2 separate regions of the Homo sapiens genome follow, and region 1 is linked to region 2. The links come from fine-mapping of genetic effects on gene expression. A gene starts in region 2. The other region holds a variant in brackets. All regions are shown on one strand. Distances are between the middles of the regions.

The links. PIP is the estimated chance that this variant, and not a neighbour inherited with it, causes the effect.
Region 1: its variant is the best candidate, but not a certain one, in a credible set for the expression of THAP2 in whole blood (INTERVAL, PIP 0.66).

What each region holds. Positions count from the first base shown.
Region 1 is chr12:71,575,644-71,578,143 of GRCh38, forward strand. LGR5 (leucine rich repeat containing G protein-coupled receptor 5) reads left to right here. Exons shown (of 18, transcript NM_003667.4): 14 at 2,282-2,353. LOC124902963 (a long non-coding RNA gene) reads right to left here. Exons shown (of 3, transcript XR_007063365.1): 3 at 1,300-1,388. Among named protein-coding and RNA genes, the nearest start is that of ZFC3H1, 87 kb to the right of the region's middle. The variant C/T (reference allele first, on the strand shown) is at 1,262.
Region 2 is chr12:71,662,779-71,665,803 of GRCh38, forward strand. THAP2 (THAP domain containing 2) reads left to right here and starts at 1,523. Exons shown (of 3, transcript NM_031435.4): 1 at 1,523-1,802. The coding sequence starts at 1,732. ZFC3H1 (zinc finger C3H1-type containing) reads right to left here and starts at 1,070. Exons shown (of 35, transcript NM_144982.5): 1 at 235-1,070. The coding sequence starts at 832. RefSeq lists enhancers at 693-812, 1,165-1,723, 1,173-1,532.

The sequences.
Region 1 (2,500 bases), 87 kb before region 2:
GGGTTTGCAGTGAGCTGAGATCGCACTACCGCCCTCCAACCTGGGCGACAGAGTGAGACTCCATCTCAAAAAATATATATGTGTGTGTGTGTGTGTGTGTGTGTGTGTGTGTGTGTATCATTCTATTATAAAGATACATGCACACATATGTTCATTGCAGCACTATTCACAATAGCAAAGACATGGAATCAACCCAAATGCCCACCAATGATAGACTGGATAAAGAAAATGTGGTATATATACACCATGGAATACTACGCAGCCATAAGAAGGGATAAGATCATGTCCTTTACAGGCACATGGGTGGAGCTGGAAGCCATTATTCTCAGCAAACTAACACAGGAACAGAAAACCAAACACTGCATGTTCTCACTTATAAGTGGGAGCTGAACAATAAGAACACATGGACACAGGGAGAGAGATACCACACACCAGGGCCTATCAGGGTGGCAGGGGGAGGGAAAGCATCAGGATAAATAGTTAATGCATGCAGGGCTTAATACCTAGGTGATGGGTTGATAGGTGCAGCAAACCTACCATGGCACATGTTTACCTATGTAACAAACCTGCATGTCCTGCACGTGTATCCTGGAACTTAAAATTAAATTAAATTTTTTTAAAAGATGGTTCAAATGAAAAGACACTTACATAGGTGTTGGCAGGGAGCAAGCAAAGGATGGGTGTGCAGAAACCAGTAACATCTGGGGCTAGAGTCACAGGGAGGAAATGATGTTTCCAGGACAAAGAAAGAGCTTAAGCATGGAGAAGTGTTGCAGCCCTTGAGAAGTCTGTAGCTGCCATGAAAGACATGATTCCAAAACAGGGAAGAGAAGACCATGAGGGCCCTGACCTCCCTTTCCTTCTGGGGCTTCTCCTGAGAAAACAACTGAGGCCATTAGGGAGCTCTGGGGATGCAGCCTGCAGGATCAGCCCCAGGCACAAAGCAGAAAATGACTCCTCTGGGGCTGCTGGGAGGATTCCAGCGCACGGGCTCATGAATTGAAAAGGAATTACAGGCCTTTGAACATATAAATTCTCACATATTTACTTAAACCCCAGCCAAATCACTCTAAGCACCATGGCAGGACTTGGCCTACATTCCAGATATTCTGCTCTGTGAAGCTCTCCCAGGGCACCATGATCTACTTAAAGCTGCCAAAAAGACTCTGACAGATGGTATTACTTGCTCACCTCAGTGACACGTATTTCTTGAGCAGCTCAACAGAAGACAGTCTTCTCACTCAATTACCCAAAGCCCAGC[C/T]GCCATTTGTAGCTTTTCTACCTTCCATACGTTTCCTCCCCTTGTTAGCTGCAATTTTCTTCTGTTCTGGGATCAAGGAAAAGACTTCCAGTTTCCTCCAGGAAAGGAGGACAGGTCCCTAAGGAACCTTTCAAATGAGAATGTAAATATTCTGTGAATACCATTTATTAAGGTAACCCTGGAGCCCAATATCATAAACTTTTCTACACTTAAGAAAAGTTGACTTTGTTTACTTTCAGTTCTCTCAAATGCCTACATCTTAGTTACCATTGTTAGTCATTTACAAAAATTAAAAATCTTAAATTCATCCTTCCTTTTTAAAAATGTAGTTCTTATTCCTGATAAATTATCTACAGAAGTTTTTGCAAAATGCTTTACTCCTACTTAATTATCTGCAGTTCATTACTTGTCCATGGGAAGTGAATTTTATTTCCCCATAAACTGTACTTTTTCTTTACTATCAAAGAATTTTATTTCTAACATATGTTGGCCCCTATTTTATTCATATCCTGGCTAATAATTTACTTGTCAGTATCCTTCCTGGAAATTTTCTTGAAAGCATCTTTGTGTTTCTTTCAAGGCCTAACATATATGAGTGATGTGCCCAAATTTTTTTGAGTTTCATTACATATCCAAGGACATTTTATAATTTAACACTTACTTGTCAGAAGAAGAGACTCAGAAGTTTCTGTCCCTTCCCACAGTGCTACAACCACTCATTTTAGAAAGGCCCTAATAAAATTTTACAACCATGTTAAAGTCAACCTTTTAGCAAGAGTAAAACCAAAATATCCACCTGAACGATGTTTCCTTGATTGGTTTTAACAAGCTTGATTTAAAGTTCTCTCATTAGTCATTTTATACCACTAATATGATAATCTGAAGGGCAGTTTGATAAGTTAATTGTTTCTGATCTGAATGGAAATTAAATTAATTTTGGTAGAAGACTAAATGCATATGATAAAACTTCACATGTTCTTTATTCTATATAATTCTCTCATTTGCCTTTTTTTACAATAGGAATTTGGCTTGGAACAAAATTGCTATTATTCACCCCAATGCATTTTCCACTTTGCCATCCCTAATAAAGCTGTGAGTATTCCACAACTTGTTTATGGTATGTCTCTTAATAATTGAGGACCATCTAGTTAATTTTAAAAGTTGGTTTTGTTGAAGAAGCTGGATATGCACAGATTACCTGCCTCTGTGTTCTCCATGCCTAGAGCTTGTCAGAGCCAG
Region 2 (3,025 bases):
TTTCATAAGCTTAACCCAATCCACAGCACGTTAATATACCCAATGAAGCAGTCTTAAGAATAACGCTATAGTGTGACACATGGGGAATTACCAAAGAACAACTTAAAGTATACTGACACAGGGAGAAATAAGCGGTTCTGATGATTCAAAGTTACACTCGTCTCACAGACCTAGTAATGACGCTAAAGGGAACTTTAGTGACACACCCAGCGCCGACCGCCACGTTAAGGATACAGCTCTTCCGAGGTGGAGAGGGCTCTCGCCAGCTCTGACTGCTGCTGAACCCGGATCCTGCTCCTCCTCCCAGAGGAGGTCTGCACCCCGGCTTGCCTCCTCGCTCACCCACTCCTCGCCCCCGACTCCAGCGACTCCCACCCCGGTAAGGCCTGCCTCGAAAGCGGAAACGGTCCAAGGCGAGGTGGCTCCGCTCCCAGAAAGACGGCCGGGGACTGCTTTCGGACAGTGAGCTCGAAGGCATCCGTACAGAAGGCGGATGAGACCGGAACGGTTCTTTGGGTCGGTAGCTGCTGGGTCCCCTGAGGTGGCCCCGCTCAGACGCGTGCCGCGAGCGTGAGAAATTCCTCAGCTGCTGCTGAGAAGAGGACGATGACGAGGAAGAGCCACCGCCTCCGCCAGATCCACCGCCCCGGGCCGAGTGAGGAGGCCTTCGCCGCGGATAGGGTAACAGCCCGCCGCCGCTGCTGCTGCTGCTGCTCCGACTCCGTATCTGGCTGTTATTATCGTCGTCACTGATTTCCCCATCTTCAAGCTCCCCTTCTTCCTTCGGCGAGAGGCCACTGGAGGCCGGGGCCGGAGTATCTGCGGTCGCCATCCGGGGAGCAGCGCCTTCCACACAACCTTAGCCCTCCGTCCGGGGATCCGCCCGACAATTGCCTCGTTTCCCTTCTTTCCTAACGGACTGGGTCGGTGCGGTCTTACCCTACTCGGACACCAAGCGGCCTCTGCTCCCCAACTTCCCCGCACCCCAGCACCCCAGCTCTCTCTCGCCGGACCGTCGCAACCCAGTTCCCTTTCCTAGCGCCCCCTTGCTCCTCAGCGATCGGGGTTCTTCCGCCTCGCGAGAAAGGGACTCTGGTAGCGGCTGTACCCGAAACGTCACTTCCTGCGACACGCAGGAAACAAAGGCTCCCAGTTCACGCGATAATAAGACCAACTCGATACTCACTAGGATTTGTAGTCTTTCGTCTTTCTTCGGGTTTACTCTTCCGGTCCTAGGGTCACACCCACCGCAGGGTCTGGCTTGGTACAGTTGGGTGCATGCAGAAGTAGGTGGAGCTGCTGTTGCAGCCTTGAGAGAGTTTTATTGTAAAACTCTTGTAATTTATAGTAATCGGAGGGGAAAACACCTCTTCCTTTTAATTGCTCTGAGGACCGCTGCCAAAGAAACGCAGTAGATCCGCTCCCTCTTGGGGGCGGGGAGAAAGAACGGGTTGTGTCCGCCATGTTGGTGAAGTCAAGCGAAGGCGACTAGAGCTCCAGGAGGGCCAGTTCTGTGGGCTCTAGTCGGCCATATTAATAAAGAGAAAGGGAAGGCTGACCGTCCTTCGCCTCCGCCCCCACATACACACCCCTTCTTCCCACTCCGCTCTCACGACTAAGCTCTCACGATTAAGGCACGCCTGCCTCGATTGTCCAGCCTCTGCCAGAAGAAAGCTTAGCAGCCAGCGCCTCAGTAGAGACCTAAGGGCGCTGAATGAGTGGGAAAGGGAAATGCCGACCAATTGCGCTGCGGCGGGCTGTGCCACTACCTACAACAAGCACATTAACATCAGCTTCCACAGGTAACCTGGGCAGGGAGTGGGGGTGACGGAAACTGGAGTTCCTATTGTGGCTATCGCTTGTGTGGAAGGAACAGGAGGATTCTGCTAATTCTAATAACTTTCCCAGCTGGTAGCAGGGAAGCATCGTATGTCCTTTGTGTTTCTCAAATCTGCCCAATTGTTCTCTGCTTTCGGGGAAGCTTTACTCATTTTCTAAAAGAAATCCAAGTACTGTTTGGTCATTACCCCTTAGTAAAAAAAAGTAACAGGAGGATATCGTAATTTTCTACTGTTTTATTCCTCTGTTAGACCGGGCCTTGACATGAATGACGCCGTAAGGGAGAAAGAGATCTTCCCAATCAGCAATCACCGTAAAAGCCTGCTGTGTTCCCGTTAAAATTAGGAAATTCTCACTAGATGAATTGACATGGGAGGCATTTAGATTTCTAATAGTCACATAGTAATTCTGCGGAGGAATTGAGTCATCTTTGATAGCCATGGAATTAAGCGATGTTAATTAAAGTGCAAAAGATAACCTTTCTGTTCTTACTAGAATAGAGTAATAAAAAGAACCTAGGTTTTCTTTTGTTTGCTGGAAGAAAAATCAAAATTCTTTAGTTCTGTCAAACCAGAACTCTTGAAAGCACTTTGAACAATGCCTGGAAAATAACAGGTACTCTGTAAATGTTTACCTTCTCTGCAAGTGCCTGCCACGTGCCCGAAGAAAAGACACATTAAAAAGTTAAGTGACACCAGTCCTGATTTTATATATTTTATATACCTAACAACGTATATGTTAGTATGTAGAAATTATATCCTTGACCTTTTTCCCTACCTATTACGAACTGTACTTTTATTAAAAGCTGCCACTTAAAAAAAATCTTGTGATGTTTCTGTTTTTAAACTAGTTCATGCATATGTAGTGCTTTGTTCATTCATCCATCAAATATGTACGGAGTTCCTAATTACCTGACATTGTGCTAAGGATCCAGAAAGTTCTAACCCTCCTGGAATTTAGAATTTAATGGTGGAGAAAGACATAAATAATTAAGTGCCACAGAAGAAACATTCAGAGACCTAACTTAGTCTTGGAAAGTCAAAGAACACTTTTTCAAAGGATGTGACATTTCAAATGAGACCAAAGGATGACAGATTGGGTCCTGTGTGCTACTTAAGTATTTTCTGTTTTATCCTAAGAGTACTTGAGAAACCATGGAGGGTTTAAAAAAGAATGGCACGATTAG